Linked DNA regions of Homo sapiens. The protein of the gene in region 6 purifies or fractionates together with the protein of the main gene of each other region. This does not show direct contact. Each region holds a gene or a part of one and is shown on either strand. Other genes may lie near its edges. The genes, in order: SRSF11, NUP133, TMOD3, COLGALT1, PRDX3, TPR and GLRX.

Region 1 (3,500 bases), about 120 Mb from region 6:
TAAAAACATCAGTTCATAAAGAAACTACATTCAGTCACTTTAATCATATATTTTCAATATAAACAGCAGTTAGAACACGGTGTGTCATAAACTTTACATACACCCGGCTGTGCTATCTAAAAGTTCCTACTGCTTGCCATGTAACTGTGGCTAATTATTTGACATTTTCCTGGTTAAATAACATAATACATATAAAGCATTTGGTATCAGTTTATCCACTATTATACTTTAAAATTATTTTCCTAACAATAGGCACATTAAAAAACATTCCCATTTATTAATGAACAAGATATTTATAAGAAAGAAAATCCAGGGCCATAGATCTAAATATATATGGGCAGATAATATGATATCTATTCATTTACTCTCAAAAAGACAATCTGCAAAGAAGACAACTAATTTTCTTTAAAGAAATATCATTTTAAACAGAAGCATTTTCACTAGGTTCTCTTGATCAATGAAAAAAATTAAAATTAGGCTATCCCAACTTAGAAAAACATAAATAATAAGAAAAACAAAATATCGTTTCAAGTATTAGATAATCCTACTGACATTTTGGACTAGATTAACCACTGCTGTGGAAGGCTGTGCTGTTTGTTGCAGGATATCTAGCAACATGTTGGTCCTTTGCCCTCTAGATGCAGTTGGTACTCCTGTGACCACCAGAATTGTCTCCAAATACGTCTGAGTGGCACTCCACTATACAATCTTTTATCAGAGTTTACAACATTTTAAACGACTAGGGTGTCACTCAACACAATTCCACATTTATGTCAAAATCATTTTTGCTAAGAATCACACAACAAAATTGCATAAACATTGTTTACCTGGTTCTATAGCAGCAGAAATTAGGGACTGTGCTTCTCGTACTCTTTTCATAGCTTCCTCTATTTCTTTACTAGAGGTATCCGATTTCAGACTTGGTGAAACGAGACCAGCAGCTACATGATTCAACCTGAAACAGAACCAAGAAATGGGATCTGAAATATTTTAAAATGCACACGAGCATTTCAAATAAATACTTAAGTATATAACATTATTTTAGCAAAATATTCCTTCAAAAAAAGGGAGGGGAGGACTCCATGATAACTTTGGTAAACAACATATAGCATAGCACTGTTTTGAATATTTACAAGTATTTGTTTTAATGACTAAGAGTCATCTGGAATTAGAAAAATACCTATTTTGCTGAACATCCATTAACTTTCCATAAACAAACACATTTTTAGAAATGCCAGTACAAGAAAATATGCTGATGCTAAGAACTTTTATTCATATAAATTAAAAATTTTTGGGCCGGTGTGGTGGCTCACGCCTGTAATCCCAGCCCCTTGGGAGGCCAAGGCAGGTGGATCACGAGGTCAGGAGATCGAGATCATACTGGCTAACACGGTGAAATCCCATCTCTACTCAAAATACAAAAAACTAGCCAGGCATGGTGGCAGGCGCCTGTAGTCCCAGCTATTCGGGAGGCTGAGACAGCAGAATTGCTTGAACCCGGGAGGCAGACATCGCGCCACTGCACTCCAGCCTGGGCGACAGAGTGAGATTTCGTCTCAAAAAAAAAAAAAAAAAAAAAAAAAAAAATTTATGACATAGTAATTTTTTGGGGAAGAGCATTACCTTTTACTTTGTAGGTGGGGAGGAACTGAGGCAGAGGCCAAAGGCCTACCAAAATTACACATGAAGTCTTGAGTGGAAAGGCTAAAGATGCCCCTTACAGGTTTACACATGTAAAAAAAAAATTGTAGGCCGGGCATGGTGGCTCATGCCTGTAAGCCCAGCACTTTGGGAAGCCTTGGCGGGTGGATCATGAGGTCAGGAGATTGAGGCCATCCTGGCTAACACGGTGAAACCCCGTCTCTACTAAAAGTACAAAAAATTAGCCGGATGTGGTGGCTTGTGCCCATAGTCCCAGCTACTTGGGAGGCTAAGGCAAAAGAATTGCTTGAATCTGGGAGGCGGAGGTTGCAGTGAGCTGAGTTTGCGCCACTGCACTCCAGGTTGGGCAACAGAGTGAGACTCGTCTCAAAAAAAAAAAAAAAAAGAAAAAGAAAGAAGAAAGAAAAAAAAATTATAGACAACAAATTTAGTAGTTATTTGTGGGCAGAACAGGAAATGTAATAAATAATGGGTATATAGGAAGCTTCAACTGTATTGGTATTATTTTATTTTATAAGCTGGGTGATGGGTACATGCTTGGTTTTATTTTTAGATAATTTCTAAGAAAAAAGTCCACTAACTACTGAAGTCCAACGATTCTGTCCTTTTCATGCTCTCTCACTTACTGATAGTGACTTTCACCAAGTTAAGGGGAAAAGGTATAAAGTTCAAATTTATTATGCCAACAAATAACCAGTGAAAAAAACTGATGAATCTGTCACATCATCAAGTCGGAAACAATTTCTGTGACAGCATGAAGAGCACTTATCAAAAGCACCTAAAATAAAATGTTGGCTATTAATTATATAATATGTAATACTACTTTGCTCTGGGATAGTGATTCCCTCAGCTTTGCCTCTAACTCCTACTATCCTCAGGACTCAGCCTCTGATCTTCAAACGAAGTTGTCCCTTATTAGCTCTTTTGCTATCATCCAGGTATAAGTCATTTACAATTACTATTCAAGACTCAAATGACACTGAAACAAAATAGTTTAGAGGACCTTACTTACTTCTGTATTTCTCTCCTTGTTTCTAGGTAACAATACATATTGCTTGTCTTGAGAAAAGATAACTTGATAACTTTCTTATAAGCTATCAAAAAAACTCTAATTCTGTAGACATTCAGATACCACATCACCAATGAAAACAAAGAAAAAACGCTTACTTGGGATCAACAGTACTCATAAGCTTCAGCAACTGATCTGCAGCAAGAGACTGTAAAAATAAAACATAAGAATAATGAGAATACATAAAACAATAAATGACCGATATTTTCTAGGCAGAAAACTGAACAACAGAAATCCATGCAGACTACATGCCATGAAACATAAATTTTTTAGTAGCCACATTAAAAAAGAAAAAACAAAAACAAAAAACAAAACAAAACAAAACAAAAACCGGTGACATCAGTAGCTACAGTATTGGATAGAGCAGCTTTAGCAAGTTATCTAAAGATTATGAGGCTGAACAGTCTAGGTATTATAGAATTATGTCTCCTTTAAGACTTTTTGACATAAAGAAACATGTAAAACTCAAAACACCTTAGCCAATATAATGCAAAAGACCTCTACAAAGAACTTCAGAAAAAAAGGTTAGCTAAATTAAAATAAAAGAAAAATTTCCATGATAGAAAAATTATAAACCACATTCTTATCTTTTCATGACTATTTACTCTGACTCTATGACACACTGATAATGTACTGGCTTCTTGTGAATCTATTTTCTATTTTGAACTATATAAAAGAAATCCATTAATGGATAAAGGAGTTAGTCATTCAGTGACTGTTTAAAGCTCTGACAAGTTTAAACAAGAAAAAAAATTACTACAACATAGCC
Region 2 (3,500 bases), about 43 Mb from region 6:
AAATTAAAAAAGCAAATTATAAGCAAGTCAACAAAATATATGTCTAATTGATGTTTATAAACTTACTCTGTCATGTTTTGTTAATCATCTCATGGGTAGTGTTCAGATTTTTACAAAGAGAATTGGTGAAATATTTTTATGAAATAATGTACAAAAATGAATTTAAAAAATCATACAAATATTTTTGTTTTACTTCTTGTTAAATGTAATCTTAAATTTAACTTTCAGTCTGAAGACCTGATTTTGTGTCAGTTGACGGTCCCAAACTTTTCAAACCAGACTGCCTATCTGTATAACGAAAGTGCTGTCTATGTGTGCTCCACAGGAACTGGGAAATTTTCTCTTCCCCAGGAGAAAATTGTCTTTAATGCACAAGGTACAGTAGCAGTTTTAGAAAGCATGATTGGTGAGCTCATTAGTCATTCTGAGTGCTTTTTTTCTCTTTCCCTGAATGTCACTTCAAGCATGCTGCTTTCAAATGTTTCTGAGACATTTCATACCACAACTACAGCAGCTGAAGCCATAACCCTACTAAGAAACCAAAAGGGTACTAGAATTTCCAAACTATTATATTTACAGACAAAGATAGTAACATTTGTTCCAGGAGAAGATGCCAAGAAGCAAAAAACTATTGCCAAGAGAAGTAATTGCTTATTCCTAGTTAGTAAAAGTGACATATTCTGAGTTGATGCTTTAACTTTTCCACACCCCTAGATAAGAAGAGCTTCAGGTGCTGGACTTATGCAGGGGGGCTGGTCAGGATTGAAGAAGAACCAAGCAGATACTTAGCTGAAGGGGTTGGGCAGAGGACAGAGTGCAGGTAGGCAACAGCATGGAACCCAGGTTTTCTAGTCCCAGCACAAGAACCTTGACAGAGGGTGGGTAGGATGTTACTAAGGTGCCAGGTAGGCTTAGACCTTTTTTTTTTTTTTTTTTTTCCAGTCCCCATTGACTGATGTGGTAAGTTAAAGTCAGAATTAAGAGAACTCCACAGGATTGAAAAAGCTCTTCTTCTGAGTTTTGCAGAAGGAATAATTTTCTTTTTTGGCTTACTAGACTGACTGCTGTCTGGCAAGGCTAGTTTTTATTGTCCTTAAAGCTGAAAGACACAGAGCCTGCTTCTTCAGATAGCAACCGGTTCTTAGCATTTGATTCTGGGATGTAAAGGATGAGTTCGAAGTAGGACTAATGTTGTAAAGGAAAAAATGTGCTTAATATATCATCAAGATGATTTTCTGCTTAGGGTGGTAGCTTTTACATAGCATTTTGTTGTTATTGTTAGATGTATTTGACTCTGTTTTCCTTTCTTTTAGGAGATAGTGTTTTAGGTGCTGGTGCCTGTGGTGGTGTTCCTATCATTTTTTCTAGAAACAGTGGACTGGTGTCTATTACTTCAAGGGAAAATGTGTCTATATTGGCAGAAGACTTGGAAGGGTCTTTAGCATCTTCAGTTGCTGGACCAAACAGTGAGGTAATGTGATTCGATAAGAATTTGAAGTTTTTATGTTATTTATTTTTTAGAGATAGTGTCTCACGCTGTCACCCAGGCTAGAGTGCAGTGGCACAGTCGTAGTTCATTGCAGCCCCAAACTCCTGGCCTCAAGCAATCCTCCTGCCTCAGACTTCCCAGTAGGTGCCTGGCTAATTTTTTGTTTTTTGGTTTGGTTTGGTTTTTGAGACAGAGTCTCACTCTGTTGCCCAGGCTAGAGTGCAGTGGCATAATCATAGCTCACTGCAGCCTCACCTCAACCTCCCGGGATCAAGCAGTCCTCCCCTCTTAACTTCCTAAATAGCTGGGACTACAGACATGCGCCATCTCACCTGGCTAATTTTTTATTTTTTGTAGAGACAGGATCTCCTTATGTTGCCTAGGCTGGTCTCAAACTCCTGGGCTCAAGAATCCTCCCGCCTCGGCCTCCCAAAGTGCTGGGATTACTGGCGTGGAGCCACCATGCCCAGCCTAATTTTTAGTTTTATCAGATTATTTTATACAAATGGTCTCAAAACTGAGACAGTTTTCAAAGACGTAATGATGCAGACATTAGTTCTTTTTATCTTCCTCATCCCTTCTGTCCTCTTTGCCTGGAGCAACTACATTTAAGCCTTTTAGTGATTTATTCTGGTATTTTTCTCCATATATCTAAGTAATGTACATATATTCCTGTCTCCTGATGCATCTGTTGATTTTCTACTACAGAAAATGAGGTTTTGGGTTACCTTATACTCCTTCCTCTGCCTTTATCATTCTAACATAAATTTTTTTCATTGTAATGACAATGTAAATATTGTTTATGGTTTGCTGATCCCAAATACTGATTACATGTCCTTTATTATAGAACTTTGTGTGACTCTTGGAGTGTATAATGACCTCGTTTTGTATTTTCTCACTTTCCTTTCATATGTGACTTAATCTTTTTACACACTCCAGGAGTTCTGTAGAGTGCCCCTCAATGTAGTTTTTCCCAAAGTCAAGTCTCCAGAAACCTTCCATCTGCACAGCTGTCATCCCAGAACTTCCCTTTTCTATTGTCCTCAAATCCTCAGGACCTGTCCTCTGCACCATGCATAGGTGGCCTCATCTCCTGTCAGCGGGGCCATTTCCCATTCCTTCTGCTTTCTATCTTCCTTTGTTGTAGTTAGTATCACAGATATTTCCAAGGAGCTTGTATTTCTGTTTCTTTTTATTCTGGGATGATTTTTTGAGAGGAATAGCCAGGTAAAAATTACCAATTTTATTCTGTTGTCTTGAAACCTGAAATATCCTATCCATAAGATTTTTATCATTCTTTTACAGAAGACTAAAAATAATTAATACTGTTTGGGGTAATTTCCATTTGAATAGTGTATGAAATATATAGACTACCTCTGTAATTCAAATTAAAGTGATTAAGTGTAGTTTTAAAGGAAAGAAACAATTTTTAACTTTTTTTTCTTTTCACAAAAGGGATTAATACCTTGCATTTTGTATTTTGTAATTATACAAAATTATACAAAGTACAAAATACCTTGTATTTTGTAATTAATACGATTACAAAAAAGGATTAATATCTATTTTGTAATTGTATGGTTATTATAATACTGTTATACATTCTGAAGCAATTTTATAGTATTCCATTTCTTTAAAATTTTTCTAAACCGTTGTTTAAATTTGTAATCAACCATTATGCTTAGGTAGTATACACTGTGATGAGTCGTGTAAGAGCAAACCTATAAAAAGATTCTGTTAATTATGATGAAATGTCCAAATTATTTTACTTACAACATAATCCCTGAATTACCTGTACCTTTTCTGTATGACTTTGGTTGATCATTTGATGCTATTTATAGTGTTTCAATAAGTATATGAATAATTGGTATGGACCAAGCTTGTCCAACCCACAACCCATGGGCTGCATGCGGCCCAGGATGGCTTTGAATGCAGCCCAACACAAATTCGTAAACTTGCTTGAAACATAAATTTTTTTTTTTTTAACTCATCAGCTATCATTAATGTTAGTGTA
Region 3 (3,500 bases), on a different chromosome or scaffold from region 6:
ATTTACCCTCATTTTGGCTTCACATGATCCAGCTACAGCAAGACCCAAATAAGAAAAGATGTTACAGCGACATTGATGAAGTTGGTCTAACACAGAAACTGAAAGAGTGAGAGAGACAGAAGAAAGAAGCATGAAGTAGGGAATGAGGAGTAGAGAATGTCACCAACGGGGAATTACATGTGACCAAAAAATCAAAAGATTATGACTGGGTACATATGAAAAATAGGTACAGGCCAGGTGTAGTGGCTCACACCTGTAATCCCAGCACTTGGGGAAGCCGAGGTGGGTGGATTGCTTGAGCCCAGGAGTTTGAGACCAGCCTGGGCAACATGGTGAAACCCCATCTCTACAAAAAATACAAAAATTAGCCGGGCATGGTGGCACACAACTGTAGTCTCAGCTACTCAGGAAGCTGAGGTGGGAAGATCAATTGAGCCCAGGAGGCAGAGGTTGCAGTGAGCTGTGATCCTGCCACTGCACTCCAGCCTGGGTGACAGGGCAAGACCCTGTCTCAAAAAAAAAAAAAAGAAAGAAAAGTAGATACAGTCATCCATGGGTTCAACCAACTTCAGATCAAAAATATTTGGAAAAAAATTCTATGAATTTCCAAAAGCAAAATCTGAATTTGCTGTATGCCAGGTACTATGTTGAATCCACAAAAATGAAGTGATGTGTAGGCATTGTATTAGGTATATTAAGTAACCTAGAGGTAATGAAAAGTATACAGGAGCATGTGTGAAGGTTATATGCAAATACTATGCCATTTTCTATAAGGCACTTGAGCATCTGAAGATTTTGGTATCTGCAGATGGTCCTGGAACCAACCCCCAACAAATACTGAGGGACAACTGTACATGTGAGAGCTATGGGCTACTGTGTCAAACTGAAACAACTAATGACAAACATTAAGGCAGTTAATTAATGTATTTATTTATGGCATGTACAATATGTAGTAGGTACTGTATCAAATTTTAATCTCTTAATATTTTCTCTAATTTCTAGGCTTTTGCAGAAATGCTGAAAGTGAACAAAACTTTGAAGAGCTTAAATGTGGAGTCCAACTTTATCACGGGAGTTGGGATTCTGGCACTGATTGATGCGTTAAGAGATAATGAAACCCTGGCAGAGCTCAAGATTGACAATCAGGTCAATGTTCTACAATAATAACGTCGAGGAAGCTACAGCCCACGCTGCTGTGTAGGGCTTGGCGACTCAGGATGGGGATGGGAGGCGGGCTGTCAGGGATCCCTGTTGGAAGATGCTGGGCTGAAAGGAGAGCTGACATTTGGGGTATCTAGAATATTAACTCAGTGTATATAACAGTGTATACAATGTAAAGGTGTATACTCTCCCTAGATCATTTTAAGAGAATTTAGATGGCTATCTAGTTTGAACTGAGAGGACTCTTACATGTGACCTAGTCCACCTTCCAATTTTTCAGCTCTGTGCTGGCAAGGTCCACATTGTAGGGTTTTTGTAAAAGGCAGAGAGATACATGTTAGAAATGTTTCCATCCAGAGTAGCTATTAATTTTTTTATTTGAAAAAATAACTCCATTTATTTGAAAAAATATTTGTTAAATGTCTCCTTCAGTCCTTCAAAGTAAATACATTTTGTAAACTATGAAGGTGGAAAAGAGGATTATGTCTTAAAATTTAACCCAGTGCTTCATAATCCATGTTTTTCATTTTTTTATTGAGATATAATTACATACAGTAAAATTCATTTTCTTAAAGTATACAGCTAAATGGTTTTTAGTATATTTGTAGAGTTTTGCAGCCATTACCACTAATTCCAGAACATTTTCATTACCCCAAAAAGAAACCCCATACCCATTAGCAGTCACTCCCCATTCACCCCTCTCACCAGGCTCTGGCAATCACTCATCCACTTTCTGTTTCTTAGGATTTGCCTATTCTGGACAGCTTATATCTGTGGAATCAAACAATATTTGATCTTTTTGTGCCTGGCTTCTTTCACCTGGCATAATGTTCTGGAGGTTCATCTGTATTGTAGCATACATCAGGACCTCATTCTTTTATGACTGAATAATATTCTATTCCATTTGGGGTGTGTCCACATACGGGCCACTAGAAATAATGCTGCTGTGAACATTCATTACAAACTCTAACATGGACATAGATTTTCATTTCTCTTCAGTATATAGCTAGGAGTGTATTGCTGGGTCACATGGTAACTCTATGTTTAACTTTTTGAGCAGCAGCCAGTTTTCCACAGTAGCTGTACCATTTTACATTCCTCTCAGCAATGTCCCCATTTTTCCACATTCTTGCCAACACTTGTTATTATCTATCTTTTTTATTATACTTATCCTAGTGGGTATGAAGTGATATGTCATTATAGTAATTCACACTTTTTTGATGTCTATATGATCATATTACTGAACTTTAAAAAGTTTAGTGTGTGTGTGTGTGTGTGTGTGTGTGTGTGTGTGTGTGTATAAAGTTCCAGTGAGGCTGTGGTGATGATTGGGTCAATGGGTAAAATCCCCTTCCTGTGACAAACATTTCATAGCTTTAAGTGACCAGTTTTCTACAACAAACAATTTGTTCTCAGTTACAAATCAGTACTTGGAACTACTGAACTATGTATATGTTGTAGGAATTGGGAACATTTAAAGAGATCAAAGAATTAGCATGTGCCTGAATGTCTTAATTTACCTTGAAAAGTATTTTGATCTAGTTTATTAATATTGTTCTTTTTTTCTAATTACTCCAGAGGCAGCAGTTGGGGACAGCTGTAGAATTGGAAATGGCCAAGATGCTTGAGGAAAATACAAATATCCTTAAATTTGGATATCAGTTTACACAGCAGGGACCACGAACCAGAGCAGCTAATGCTATAACAAAAAACAATGACTTAGGTAAGACATAGTATCGATCAAGTTTCTGAGTTCTATCACAAGCTAACGTATTGGGGGAACTTCTTTCCCTCTTAAGAATAAATTCTAACAGAGAAGTTATTTGGCCTTTGTTTCTAAAATCTGCATGGTCCTTTATATACTGATTGAATTCAAGTTCAATTAAAGTGAGGTTGTGATGATTGGGTCAATGGGTAAAATCAGCTTCCTGTGACAAGCGTATTTCATAGTTTTAAGTGACCAGTTTTCTACAACAAACAATTTGTTCTCAGTTACAGATCAGTCCTTGGAACTATTGAAACAAAGATTTCAACATTATCGGAAAGTTTTTTGCCCTTTTAATCAAGCGGACCCAGATAGAAATTCAATTTTATATGATAGAATGTGGATATAGAAATATATAAAATAGAGAATAATTATATTTCTCACCCAGGTTTTTTGTTGTTGATTTTTTTTGAGACGGAGCCTCGCTGTGTTGCGAGGCAGGAGTGCAGTGGCGCCATCTCGGCACACTGCAACCTCCGCCTCCCAGGTTCAAGTGATTCTCCTCCCTCAGCCTCCCGAGTAGCTGGGACTACAGGCGTGCGCGCCGTGCCCAGCTAATTTTTGTATTTTTTTT
Region 4 (3,500 bases), on a different chromosome or scaffold from region 6:
GGTGTGAGCCACCACATCCAGCCCATCTCTTAAAACAAACAAACAAAAAGCAGAAAAGAAAAAGCAAAGAGTCAAGTGAGCAAAGTGATTACGATGCAGTGGTGGCTAGAGGTCCAACTACACAGGCCAGTGGAGGCACTTGGTGTCTACTTGGAGGGGAATGGGGAGCCATGGAGGGTGTGTGAGCAGGGGAGGTCTGTGTTCTGATTTGAGATTTTCAGAAGCCTCTGTGGACCAGGCGCGGTGGCTCATGCCTCTAAATTCAGTACTTTGAGTGGCTGAGGCAAGTGGATTGTTTGACTTCAGGAGTTTGAGACCAGCCTGGTCAACATGGTGAAACCCTGTTTCTACCAAAATATAAACATTAGCTTGGCATGGTGATGCGCGCCTGTAACCCCAGCTACTTGGGAGGCTGAGGCAGGAGAATGTCTTGAACCCGGGAGGCAGAGGTTGCAGTGAGCTGAGATTGCACCACTGCGCTCCAGCCTGGGCGACAGAGTGAGACTATGTCTCAAAAAAAAAAAGCCACACACTAGCAGGAAGCTGGAGTAGAGGCCCAAGCAGGGTATCAGCGATTGATGGACAGGCCTGCATGGGGTGGGGGCCGTGGAGAAAGGCAGGGGGTTCAGGATGCGTCACGAGGTGAAGGAGACAGGTTCTGCTTTGACACTGGATGTGAAGGTGCCAGGGAGAGAGGAACGGGGACAGTGCCACATCTAGGGAGGACGGATGGAGCTCCTGAGGGGACCCTTTCGCTTGGTGCCTTATCAGACCATTTTATAGGTGAGGAAACAGGCTGACGGAGGGGACATCTTGCCTGGTGGGGTGTCAGAACTGGCAAGGAGGCAGAGAGGTGGATCTGGAGCCTTCCAGAGCCTTCTGACACAAAGCTGCCTTGTCCTGCCTCTAGGATTTTGCTTTTGTGGTTTGAGGTTGCCTGGCTTTAGCTTTTTTTTCCCTCAGCAAACCGGGGTGGAACTCAAAGTGCTGGTTCAAAACTCAAAGTGGCTTTTGACACAAAATAATATTTTCGTGTTTCTTTTTTTTTTTTTTTTTTTTTGAGACAGTGTCTCACTCTGTCGCCCAGGCTGGAGTGCAGTGGCGCGATCTTGGCTCACTGCAGCCTCCACCTCCTGGGGTCAAGTGACTCTCCTGCTTCGGCCTCCCAAGTAGCTGGGACTACAGATGCTTGCCACCATGCCCGGCTATTTTTTTTTTTGTGACGGAGTCTCACTCTGTCGCCCAGGCTGGAGTGCAGTGGTGCGATCTCAGCTCACTGCAAGCTCTGCCTCCCAGGTTCATGCCATTTTCCTGCCTCAGCCTCCTGAATAGCTGGGACTACAGGCGCCCGCCACAACACCCGGCTAATTTTTTGTATTTTTAGTAGAGACAGGGTTTCACCGTGTTGGCCAGCATGGTCTCGATCTCCTGACCTCGTGATCCACCCGGCTTGGCCTCCCAAAGTGCTGGGATTACAGGCGTGAGCCAGCGCGCCTGGCCCGACTAATTTTTTTTGTATTTTTGTAGAGACAGGGTTTCACTATGCTGACCAGGCTGATCTCGAACTCCTGACTTCAGGTGATCCACCCACCTCGTCCTCCCAAAGTACTACTGGGATTACCGGTGTGAGCCACTGCGCCTGGTCACAAAATTATATTTTTGTAACTGGGGACTTTGGAACCCATATTGGAATGTGAAATAGTTTGTCTAATGTTTTAAAATGATTGTTTGAAGGTCCCCCTTTCTCTCTCTTTTTACAAAAGCTATGGATGTTACTTGCAGGTAAAAAAAATAAATAAAAATATACGAGCTGGGTGTGTCTCACGCCTGTAATCCCAGTGCTTCAGGAGGCCAATGTGGGAGGATCATTTGAGGTCAGGAGTTCAAAACCAGCCTGGGCAACATAGTGAGACCCCCCCCATCTCTACAAAAACTAACAAAAAAAAAAAATTAGCCAGGTGTACTGGTTTGTGTCTGTAGTCCCAGCTAATTGGGAGGCTGAGGTGGGAGGATTGCTTGAGCCCAGGAGTAGGAGGCTGCAATCAGCCATGATTGTGTCACTGTACTCCAGCTTGGGTGACAGAGCGAGACCCTTTCTTAAGCTTCGTATATGTGTATGTGTGTGTGTATGTGTGTGCGTGTGTGTATACATATATACATATATACGTGTATATGTATATATATCTATATATGTATATAAACATATATACGTGTGTGTGTGTATAATATAGATATACATATGAAACAAGAAAGAAAAACATCTACTTTTTTTTTTTTTTTTTTTTTGAGATGGAGTCTCATTTTGTCACCCAGGCTAGAGTGCAGTGGCGCCATCTCGGCTCACTGCAACCTCTGCCTTCTGGGTTCAAGCAATTTTCCTGCCTCAGCCTCCGGAGTACCTGGGATTACAGGTGCCCGCCACCATGCCTGGCTAAGTTTTTGTATTTTTAGTGGAGATGGGGTTTCGCCATGTTGGCCAGGCTGGTCTTGAACTCCTGACCTCAAGTGATCACCTGCCTCAGCCTCCCAAAGTGCTAGGATTGCAGGCGTGAGCCACCGCCCCTGGCCAGCATCTAAATTTTAATTGTATCTCCTGGAGAGATTCACTTTCTCCTCTTTCTTGTTTGTTTTAATTGAAGTCAGTTCACATATATATTTATTTGTTTTGCAACCACCACCTCTAATTCTAGAACATTTTCATTCCCCAGAAAGAAAACCCTATTCCCATCAGCAGTCACTCCCCAACTCCCCATTCCTCTCCCCTAGGCTCTGGCAGCCACTAATCTGCTTCCTGTCTACGGATTTGTCAATGGAATGTCACACTATATGGCGTTTCGTGTCTGGTTTCTCTCACTCAGCATTGAGTTTTCAGGGTTCATTACAGCCTGGATCAGTGCTTCCTTCCTTTGTATGGCTGACTCTTATTCCGTTGTCTGGGTGGACCACGTTATGTTGATCTCCTCATCCGTTGATGGACACACTTCAGTCACTTCCACCTTTTTTGGCTGTTGAGACTTTTTTTTTGAGACAGAGTGTTGCTCTGTCGCGCAGGTTTGCAGTGCAGTGGCACGATCTCGGCTCACTGCAACCTCCATCTCCTGGGTTCAAGCGATTCTCCTGCGTTAGTCTCCCGAGTAGCTGAAATTACAGGCATGTGTCACCATGCCCGGCTAATTATTTTTATTTATTTTTATTTTTAGTAGAGACGGGGTTTCACCGTGTTGCCCAGGCTGGTCTTGGACTCTTGACCTCATGTGATCTGCCTGCCTTGGCATCCCAAAGTGCTAGGATTACAGGTGTGAGCCACTGCACCCGGCCTGGCTGTTGGGATTCTGACATGAACATGAGCGTACAAAGACCTGTTTGAATTATCTGGGCATGGTGGTGCGCGCCTGTATTTAATCCCAGCTACTCAGGAGGCTGAGGCAGGAGAATCATCTGAACCTAGGAGGTGGAGGTTGCAGTGAGCCGAGATCACACCACTGCACTTCAGCCTGGGT
Region 5 (3,500 bases), on a different chromosome or scaffold from region 6:
AGCGAAACTCTGTCTCAAAAAAAAAAAAATCACTGAAACCACCTCCTAACATGTCTCCCCCTTCCTCCTGCTCCTCTTTCCCTCCTGCCGGACTAATCTTCCTAAAAACCCCCATCTCAGCCAGGCACTGTGGCTCACGCCTGTAATCCCAGCACTTTGGGAGGCCGAGGCTGGCAGATCACGAGGTCAGGAGATGGAGACCATCCTGGCTAACACGGTGAAACCCCATCTCTACTAAAAATACAAAAAATTAGCCGGGCGGGGTGGCGGGCGCCTGTGGTCCCAGCTACTCGGGAGGCTGAGGCCGGAGAATGGCGTGAACCCAGGAGGCAGAGCTTGCAGTGAGCTGAGATTGTGCCACTGCACTCCAGCCTGGGCGAACAGAGCGAGACTCCGCCCTTGACTCTGTTATCTTTCCTGCTAAGAAGACCCAGCAGCCTAGTATTTAAGGACTGTTGCAACATGGCCTTCAACCATTCCTGCCTGCTGCCTGCTCTTCACTCCGTACCCTTAGACACTCTCTGTTCTCATTAGACTGCCACACGCTGCTCCACACACATGTCCTGTCTTCCTTCCTGCTGTTTCCTACATGCCATCTGCCCCATCCCATCTAGACTTGACAAAATCTGAACCATATTTAAAATCCATCTCTAGTCTCATGTCTTCCTTAATTCTATCCCTACTTTGTCTTCCTCTTTTTAGTTTCTGTAGCAGTTGGAATTGAATTTGTGCACAATCTAAAACTATAGAAGGAGAAATTACAGTTGGCCCTCTGTATCTGGATTCTGCATCTGTGGTTGGTTGAATCGAAAATATTGGGAGGGAAAAATGGATGGTTGTGTCTATACTGAACACAAAGTCTTTTTTTCTTGTCATTCCCTAAACAATACAGCTTAACGACTATTTACGTAGCATTTACGTCGTATTAGGTATTATGAGTAATCTAGAGATGATTTAAGTATACTGGAGGGTGTGTGTGGATTATATGCAAATCACCACTTTATGTAAGAGACTTGAGCATCTGTAGATTTCGATATCCTAGAACCAATCCCCCCACAGGTGGCAAAGGATGACTGTGCCTAAGATGTACAGTTGAACCGAATGTTTTGATTTATACTAAGCACTTTATACTACTAATTAATTATGAGAAGTTTAAATAAAATCATAGGTGCTTGACATAGCAAATGATGAACTCCATATGAGTGTGGGTTTTTTTTCAGGTTCCTCATGCCATGCACCTGCTGTCACCCAGCATGCACCCTATTTTAAGGGTACAGCCGTTGTCAATGGAGAGTTCAAAGACCTAAGCCTTGATGACTTTAAGGGGAAATATTTGGTGCTTTTCTTCTATCCTTTGGATTTGTAAGTGTAATTTCTATGATGCTTTCGTGTCATTCTGAGAGCAAGCACATATCCTGTTCCCACACTGAATTGTCTATCCCTAGATACCCTTGTGAAAGGAAGGATTCTTTCTGACCCTTTATCACTGATGGCCTTGTTGATTACAGCTGGGATCTGTAGCTTGTTTACAAGTGATAAACTTCGGGGGTGGGGTAGGACAGCTTTCTTTATAGTACACCTCTGTGCTCTGGAGCACTGCTTCCCTAAGCCAGTCTATGAAAAAGTTTTCACTGGTCTGGGGAAAAATGAGAAAAGTAGGCATAATAAAATGATTTTTTTCAAAAAGCAACTTTATTGAACTGTAATTTTTTTTTCTTAAAATATGTGTTCCCTTTCCCCATTTTTTGATACAATTCCTAAAAATAAAAAGGTGAGGGGAGGTAGTAGTACTTTTGCCAGCACAACACTATAGTCCAGTGAGGATGGTAAACCATTTTGCCTTTTTTACCCTTAGCAAGTTGAACTAGTTGTTAGACCACTAATTGTTAAAATCCTTGTTTTTAAATGCTCTAATGAGAATTTCTATCCTTTTTTTCCAGCACCTTTGTGTGTCCTACAGAAATTGTTGCTTTTAGTGACAAAGCTAACGAATTTCACGACGTGAACTGTGAAGTTGTCGCAGTCTCAGTGGATTCCCACTTTAGCCATCTTGCCTGGATAAATACACCAAGAAAGGTATGGCATTGTACCCCTAGCTTTTGCTCTTATAAACTTGCTTGGAAGAATCTAAATTTCTAGCTATGCTGCTGGACTATCAAGATCAAATTACGCAAGGGTTGGGTTTTTTTTTTTTTTTTTTTTTGAGACGGAGCTTCACTCTTGTTGCCCAGGCTGGAGTGCAATGGCACAATCTCAGCTCACTGCAACCTCCGCCACCTGGGTTCAAGCGATTCTCCTACCTCAGCTTCCCGAGTAGCTGGGATTACAGGCATGTGTCACCACCCCTGGCTAATTTTGTATTTTTAGTAGAGACGGGGTGTCTCCATGTTGGTCACGCTGGTCTCGAACTCCTGACCTCAGGTGATCCGCCCACCTTGGCCTCCCAAAGTGCCGGAATTACAGGCATGAGCCACCACACCTGGCCTACTCAAGGTATTTTTTTTATTATTACTCTTCCATGTCTATGTTTGAGAAAATTAGCCTTTAAAAGAATGCTTTAAGAATTAGAAAAAGCAGCCGGGCGTGATGGCTCACGCCTGTAATCCCAGCACTTTGAGAGGCCGAGACAGGTGGATCACAAAGTCAGGAGATCGAGACCATCCTGGCTAACACGGTGAAACCCCATCTCTACTAAAAATAAAAAAAATTAGCCAAGTGTGGTGGTGGGCGCCTGTAGTCCCAGCTACTCGGGAGGCTGAGGCAGGAGAATCGCTTGAACCCAGGAGGCGGTGGTTGCCATGAGCCAAGATCGCACCACTGCACTCCAGCCTGGGCGACAGAGCGAGACTCCATCTCAAAATAAATAAATAAATAAATAAAATAATAAAGAATTAGAAAAAGCATCTGTAGTCCCAGCTACTCAGGAGACTGGGGTAGGATGATTGCATGAGCCCAGGAGTTTGAGGCTGCTGTGAGCTGTGATTGCATCACTGCATTCCAGCCTGGTGACAGCGAGACTCTGTGTCTTAAAAAAAAAATTGGAAAAGGTCTATAGTATTAGCCGGGTGTAAATCTTCCTTCTGCTCCTTTCTAGCTGTGACCTGGAACAAGTTACTTAGGTTTTTCTTGCCTCAGTTTCCTCATTTTGATAGTGTCTTCTCCAGGGTGGTTTCGAGGAGGCAGTAGGTTAATAGAGTAAGCAGTGCTTGGCCCGTTGTTGAATTACTGTTACCTATCGCCGTTACTGTTGGTCTCAAACATTGTGGTACGTGGTCAAGAATGTTGTGAGGCCACACATTCTAACAGTCATGTTTGCATTTTGATTAGAATGGTGGTTTGGGCCACATGAACATCGCACTCTTGTCAGACTTAACTAAGCAGATTTCCCGAGACTACGGTGTGCTGTTAGAAGGTTCTGGTCTTGCACTAAGGTAAGATCCTGTTTCTGATGAACTTAAGATTATTTTTCATGTTTAGTATCATTCTGCTTCTTAGGGGAT
Region 6 (3,500 bases):
AAAAAGCTTCTACACAGGAAACAAGAATATTAAAAGGCAACCTACAGTTCTGACATAGGTAGCTTGAGATAGATATTTCTAACTCAAAAACATGTAGATTGCCATTGTTTTGCTGGGAAGCAGTTTGACAAGTTTTTTGTTTTTGAGACAGGGTCTCACTCTGTCACTCAGGCTAGAGTGCAGTGATGCAGTCTTGGCTCACTGCAACCTCTGCCTCCCGGGCTCAAATGATCATCCCACCTCAGCTTCCTGAGTAGGTGGGACCGCAGGCATGTGCCACCATGTCTGGCTGTTTTTTTCTACTTGTAGAGACTGGGTTTCGCTGTGTTGCCCAAGCTGGTCTTGAACTCCTAGACTCAAATGATCGGCCCAGCTTGATTTCCCAAAGTGCTGTGATTACAGGCATGAGCCACTGCACCTGGCTGACAAAATATATTAAAAGTTTTAAGTAATTCAATTTTTAGGAATCTTTCTTGAAAAATAATTTGAACTAAGGTGTAAATACAGTGATATTCTAAGTTATTAGGACATTTCCATGTGATTAAAAGAGATATGAGAAAAATTTTCATAAGCCTAGTAAAAATGTTTTAAAAATCCAAAATTTAAATAGAAACATTGGAATTACGGGTATTTTTTAACTTTGATGTGTAAGTTATAAGAGAAAGCCAGTCATTTACACTACAGCTGATGTTAACTAAAGTGACAATTCTATGTTCGCTTTCCTGTATTGCTCTACTTGATTTTCTTACTTATTACTTCTTTATATGACAGAGCCAATTTACAAGAACAAAGGAAGAATTAGAAGCTGAGAAAAGAGACTTAATTAGAACCAATGAGAGACTATCTCAAGAACTTGAATACTTAACAGGTATGAAGAAGTGCTTGTAGCTTTTAGCTCCATTCCTTTATTTTTCTTCTGTTAGTGCTAGGAGTTAGTGCTCAGCCCATTTCTGTTGCTGATATTTTTTTGTTATGGTTGAGTATAGAGTTGTCATATCCTATTATTTCTCCTACTCATTTATCTTTAAATCATTGTCAAGTGTTTAAAGAAGTGTCTAGAAAGTGCACAAGTGAAGAACATCTCAAAGAAGTAGTAATTTGGACCAGATTTTACATGCAAAGATTTTCACTACAATGCTGTACATAATGTCAAATTGGAAGCACTTTAAATATTTGCAAAGGCTGAACTACTGTTCTTTATTTCATATGGACATCCTTGCTATATAATAAGCATTCAATATAAGAACATATACTCAGCCTATATTTATAAACAGACTGAAGGAGGCAGAGACATAAAATACATAAACATAGACTGTAGTATATAATACAGCTGATGTAGTCAGGTGAACTTGACTCTGAAGCAGTTAATGGTAAGAAGTTTCCTTTGGTGCCCAGGCACGGTGGCTGACGCCTGTAATCCCAGCACTTTGGGAGGCTGAGGTGGGTGGATCATGAGGTCAGGAGTCCAAGAGCAGCCTGGCCAAGATGGTGAAACCCCGTCTCTACTAAAAATAACAGAAATTAGCCAGTCATGGTGGCACGCACCTGTAATCCCAGCTACTTTGTAGGCTGAGGCAGAGAATTGCTTAAACCCAGGAGCCGGAGGTTGTAGTGAGCCAAGATTGCGTCACTGCACTCCAGCCTGGGCGACAGAGCTAGACTCCGTATCAAAAAAAAAAAAAAAAAAAAAAAAGGTGTTTTGGGTTCTTTTTTTTTTAATGGTTTTTGAAATTTTTTTATTTCTATAAAAGAAAGGATTTTCAGATATTTATATCATTATACAATAATATTCCATTAGTTAAGTATACTTTCCCAGTCTCACAAGAGTTCCTTCAAAATACTTGAGTGTGTTGATCAACAAGTGGTAGTTACAACTAAACGAATTCATAAAATCTAGATATTTAATAGATAGTTTTTTAAAAATGTGTATTCCATATTGAGTAGGTTTTTATATTAGTGCTTTTTAGCTTAATGATTATTTATAAAATTTTAATAGGTCTTTGGATATATATCAGGAAAATTAAGGTTAACGTTGAATATTTAGCTTAACACACTGTATTTAAAATAAATTTGGATAATTCACAAGTTTGGATACACAAATTTCAATTTTTTGTCATATATTTGTAGAAATTGAATTTGTAATTAACTATGGCAGAAACAAGTTAAAATAAGAGAGTTGAGAACTACAGTTGACCCTTAAACAACACAGTGGTTAGGGTTGCTGATTCCCCCCACAGTTGAAAATTTATGTGTAACTTTTGACTCCCCAAAAACTTAACTACTGCTGTTAACTAGAAGCCCTACCAATAACATACACAGTAGATTGTCATACGTTTTGTCTGTGATCTGTATTATATACTGTGCTCCTTCAATAAAGTAAGCTAGAGAAAAAAATGTTAAGAAAATCATAAGGAAGAGAAAATACGTTTACTGTACATTAAATGGAAGTGGATCATCACAACCATCTTCATCCTCCTTGTCTTTACATTACCTAGGCTGAAGAAAAGGGGTTGGTCTTGCTGGGTCAGGTTGCAGAGGTAGAAGGGGAGGCAGAAGAGGGAGGCACACTCAATGTAACTTTACGAAATACAGCCTAATTTCTGTCTGACTTGCTTTTTCATTTCTCTAAAAATGTTTCTATACATTACCAATCTTCCTTCCACCGTTTGCTATAGTTTCAGTGCCCATGTAAGAGAAGGATCCATGTCATAAAAGAAATCAAAAGCAGTCTTGGGTAATCAGAACCCTTCCACCAGATAGTCTGTTACCAATATGTTTTCTGACACTGCTAGTTCTACATTCTTTTTCCACATCGTCTGGCACTGGTTTGGAAGCACTCATCTCCATCCAGTCATCTTCTGTTAATTTATCTGATATGGTGGCTATTAGCTCTTGGATTTCTCCAAGGTCCGTATCTTGAAACCCTTCATCCCACTTTTTTTGCCATATCCACAATCTCTTTCATGATTTCTTTGATTGGCTCTGTTACAAATTTTGTGACATCATGCACAACATCTGGAGAGTTTCCTCCAACAGGAATTTATTATTTCAGCCTTGATGGCTTTCATAACTTTTTCTGTAATGAAAAAGAAGGGATGGCCTCTTCAGTGTGTTATCCTTTAAAACTTTCATGATATTTTCTCTGTTGGGGTTCTCTTCCACAGTGTTGACATTTTCTTTTCACAAAGTATCATCTCTATTGAGCCGTAAAGGTCCTTATGACTCCTGATCTAAAGGCTGAATTAGAAACATGTTTGGGAGCAAGTAGACTGCTTTGACACCTTCCATGTTGAACTCCTGGGTTCTGGGTGGCCAGGGACAGTGTCTAAAGTCAAAAGAACTTTAAAGGCAGCCCCTTGGCCAGGTACGGTGGCTCATGCCTATAATCCCAGCACTTTGGGAGGCCGAGGCAGGTAGATCACCTGAGGTCAGGAGTTCGAGACTAGCCTGGTCAACATGGCAGAACCCCATCTCTACTAAAAATACAAAAATTAGCTGGG
Region 7 (3,189 bases), on a different chromosome or scaffold from region 6:
CCAGAAGAGGGAACGATGATTTTTCAGTCAAAAGGCCATGAGAGGAGAGAGAAAATATAGGGGAAATGATCTGTAAATCAGGCCTTGAACGAGGAGGAGTTTCAAAGTAAAACAAAGAAGAAAAGGCATCTCAGGAGAAAGAAACACAATGAACATGGACAAAGAAGTGTGAAAGTGCAGGCAAGTGGTCCAGAGTGGATCAGATACTATAACCTCCGGTGGGAGGGCTTTCATATTGTGCAGTGTGTAAACTGAACAATTATCCATAGCAATCCTGGTGTAAACTGAACAATTATCATAGCAATCCTGGTTGAAGGGAGTGGTTAGGGCCCACAAAAGAAAGAAGCGAGAAGTACAAGGGCCTTAAGTGGGAAATGGCAAAAAGGAATATGAAATGAAAAAGACTGTTATTAAACCCTAAGCATTATTCAGTAAGCCAGGGCTGGCATTTATTTCAATATGAAATTTCAAAATTATATCAGCCATTTGTACTCAGTGAGTGACAGCAGCACGTGTCTTTATTTATAATGGCAGGGCCAAATATAAACACAGTTTTAAGTTAGTGTATTTCGCATAACATTCCTTAATGTCTTGAGAACATGCAAATGAATTGGACAAAAATCACTGAATCATCTATAGGTTTTTTTTATTAGAAAAGAAATTAAGTGTTGTCACTAGAGATTGAAGGAAATTAACAATCTTACAATTCTAGAACAGGCAAACTTCATGATAAGGGATTCTTAAGTTTTCAAAGTGTAGGAGCTCTTTCACAGATACACTCTTGGTGTAGGGGGCTGTAAGTTTTATCAGATGTTTTACATTTCATGCTTTAATCTTTGCTGGTAGTCTAAATAAAATAAATACACAGTGTTCAGGATTATCTGGATAGCCATCTTAAATAACAGAGTGTTCCGCATGACCACAGCCTCTGCACTTGTGCCTCTGATCCATATGACACCAAGACCAACTATGCTTTTCATATGATTTCTCCAATTGGGTCCTGTGACCTTTCACAGAATTGTTGAACATTTCCTATGAGATCTGTGGAGGACAAGGTGGAGAACACTGGTTCAGAGCAGTGATTTTCAAGGTGGGATGGGATGGGGTGGAGTTGAGTGGAGAGATGCATGTAGTTAGAAAGAACACATTCAAAATACCCACTGATTTCATAATACAAACTCCATAAAGTCAAGCAGCAAAATGATTTTAGCTAATGGGCAGTAGCAGATAACCAACTGTGGATTCATCATTGTGGAGAAGGAGTCTGGATAAACATAGTTGAAAAACACTGGCTTAGAGGTAGAGACATGCCGACACATGGAGAACAGTAAGAAACGCATGCCAAAGAGGACAATTGAGGGTCAGTGAGCGAATCCTGGGCCAGAACTTGTCACAGTCTTCTGAAAACCAAAGAGCACATCCAGAAGAAAACCAAGATGGCCCGTCAACCTTCTTGGCCCTGTGATTAAGAGCAAGTTGGTCCACTTTTAAATACTGAGCCAAAAGAGGAAAAAAGCTGTTTGTGCCCCCAAATTCATCCACCAGAAGTGCTGTCATCATTTGCAATGCCATCCAGCTCTTGAGGAGGGACGTCAGCATGGGGCCTGTTCTGCCAGGAAAGAAAGAAGGGATCTCCTTGTAAGGCAAAATCCTTCCTTTCTCTCATTACCAGAACACTTACACCTGCCATTTAAACACACTCTGTTGCAGATGGCCTTGAGATGCAGCTGCCAGTAAAATACTGACAGCATAGAACACTGAAGGAAAAGGCCAAATGCAAATAAGGAGACTTTCTGAATATGGGGGACTCTAATGCCCACACCAAAATAGAAGCAGTTGGAGAAATAACATTTCCCATCTTCTCTCATTCTTAATCTAAGCCTAAATTGCTAAACATGTCCCAGAATAGGAAACCATTAATTGGGTTTGAGTGCTTTTAGTACCAGTGGTAAGGCCAGGAAGTGAACTCAGACAGACATAGGGTGCACCTGCTGTGATGATATCGTAGAATTCTGATTAGAAGATTTATAGCATTGACTATTTCATTTCAGAGAAATCAGTGGTATTTTTTCAGACCTTTTTCCCCCTTCTGTTGCTATGCTGAGTAACCATCACAAATAATGTATACTCATTGCCCAAGAAATGAGTTATTAATTAGCAGGCAATAGATACCCCTCCAAGAACATTTTGGTTAAAGAACCATTCATTTCTCCCTCAACTAAAGCAGCATTTACATCTCTCTGGGTACAGGTCTCTGAATTGGCCTGCTTGGGAGCTAGCTAGCGCTAGCTGTGCTGGGGAACTGGGGGAGGGAGGAGCTCAGACTCCAAAACCATCACGGTTCCCTTCTGAAATGTTCATCGCCCTGTGGTTTTCCACAGAGCCAAAGATCTCCTTTAGGTTACTGATTTTAGAAAACTTTGTTTTGGCTTTTGGGAAGCCAATTAAATAGAGTTGATTTGCCAAGTGAACACAGGTAAAGCCAAAATGACCTGTGTTTCACATTGCGTTTTGAATAAATCCAAATTGTTTACCATGGCCTGGGTGCTCTGGCCCCTGCCCACCTTTCTCGCTATTCTTCCTTTTCACTGCACTTCATTCACTCTATTCCTGCTTTCTTTCTGTTCCACGAACATCCCTTACCTGTTGCCACCTCAGAGCCTTTGCACTTGCTATTCCCTCTGCCTGAAAAGCTCTTCTGCTTCATCTCTGCATAGCAGTCCCCTTGTTAACCAGGTCTCAGCTCAACCCTTCCTGAGAAAGGCCCTCCCTTACCATGTTAGCTCAATTTTCTCCCCACCCCATGACATATTCTGTCACATTATTCTATTCTATTTCAGGATTTGCTTGTTTTTGATCTGTCTACCTCTCTAAAATATAAGTTCCAGGTTATCATTTTATGCATCATTATATTCTCATGTGTCTGGCACATGCTTAATAAATATTTCTTAAATGAAGCTTGAGTGAAAGGATTTCTCTCATTGACACGATCTCTTTGTAAAGTGTGAAATTCATAAGTGATTGACATCACCATTCCTCAACTCACCCCAAATCATTTCTTCCCCCAACCAGAATGCTGTCATACAGTATAACAAACCACGACAGAAGAATTCCACGGTCTCCCATGTTCCTGGCCCAGCACCTCACCTGCCACTCACCTGTGGTTACTGCAGAGCTCCAATCTGCTTT

The links.
Region 1: the proteins of TPR (region 6) and SRSF11 fractionate together in Homo sapiens (co-fractionation; one large-scale study listed by BioGRID). This does not show direct contact.
Region 2: the proteins of TPR (region 6) and NUP133 fractionate together in Homo sapiens (co-fractionation; one large-scale study listed by BioGRID). This does not show direct contact.
Region 3: the proteins of TPR (region 6) and TMOD3 fractionate together in Homo sapiens (co-fractionation; one large-scale study listed by BioGRID). This does not show direct contact.
Region 4: the proteins of TPR (region 6) and COLGALT1 fractionate together in Homo sapiens (co-fractionation; one large-scale study listed by BioGRID). This does not show direct contact.
Region 5: the proteins of TPR (region 6) and PRDX3 fractionate together in Homo sapiens (co-fractionation; one large-scale study listed by BioGRID). This does not show direct contact.
Region 7: the proteins of TPR (region 6) and GLRX fractionate together in Homo sapiens (co-fractionation; one large-scale study listed by BioGRID). This does not show direct contact.

The regions. Positions count from the first base shown.
Region 1 is NC_000001.11:70,234,880-70,238,379, reverse strand, and holds part of SRSF11 (serine/arginine-rich splicing factor 11), read right to left. Parts: intron 2,880-3,500; coding exon 2,830-2,879; intron 956-2,829; coding exon 828-955; intron 1-827. UniProt on the Homo sapiens protein: May function in pre-mRNA splicing.
Region 2 is NC_000001.11:229,484,342-229,487,841, reverse strand, and holds part of NUP133 (nuclear pore complex protein Nup133), read left to right. Parts: intron 1-228; coding exon 229-376; intron 377-1,313; coding exon 1,314-1,471; intron 1,472-3,500. UniProt on the Homo sapiens protein: Involved in poly(A)+ RNA transport. Involved in nephrogenesis.
Region 3 is NC_000015.10:51,899,153-51,902,652, forward strand, and holds part of TMOD3 (tropomodulin-3), read left to right. Parts: intron 1-1,002; coding exon 1,003-1,146; intron 1,147-2,739; coding exon 2,740-2,884; intron 2,885-3,500. UniProt on the Homo sapiens protein: Blocks the elongation and depolymerization of the actin filaments at the pointed end. The Tmod/TM complex contributes to the formation of the short actin protofilament, which in turn defines the geometry of the membrane skeleton.
Region 4 is NC_000019.10:17,562,149-17,565,648, forward strand, and holds part of COLGALT1 (procollagen galactosyltransferase 1 precursor), read left to right. Parts: intron 1-3,500. UniProt on the Homo sapiens protein: Beta-galactosyltransferase that transfers beta-galactose to hydroxylysine residues of type I collagen. By acting on collagen glycosylation, facilitates the formation of collagen triple helix. Also involved in the biosynthesis of collagen type IV.
Region 5 is NC_000010.11:119,172,313-119,175,812, reverse strand, and holds part of PRDX3 (thioredoxin-dependent peroxide reductase, mitochondrial isoform a precursor), read left to right. Parts: intron 1-1,220; coding exon 1,221-1,362; intron 1,363-1,940; coding exon 1,941-2,076; intron 2,077-3,327; coding exon 3,328-3,431; intron 3,432-3,500. UniProt on the Homo sapiens protein: Thiol-specific peroxidase that catalyzes the reduction of hydrogen peroxide and organic hydroperoxides to water and alcohols, respectively. Plays a role in cell protection against oxidative stress by detoxifying peroxides.
Region 6 is NC_000001.11:186,365,254-186,368,753, reverse strand, and holds part of TPR (nucleoprotein TPR), read left to right. Parts: intron 1-771; coding exon 772-868; intron 869-3,500.
Region 7 is NC_000005.10:95,813,349-95,816,537, forward strand, and holds the end of GLRX (glutaredoxin-1), read right to left. Parts: coding exon 3,165-3,189; 3' UTR 3,159-3,164; exon of another isoform or gene 3,148-3,158; intron 1,610-3,147; exon of another isoform or gene 1,042-1,609; 3' UTR 501-1,041; downstream 1-500. UniProt on the Homo sapiens protein: Has a glutathione-disulfide oxidoreductase activity in the presence of NADPH and glutathione reductase. Reduces low molecular weight disulfides and proteins.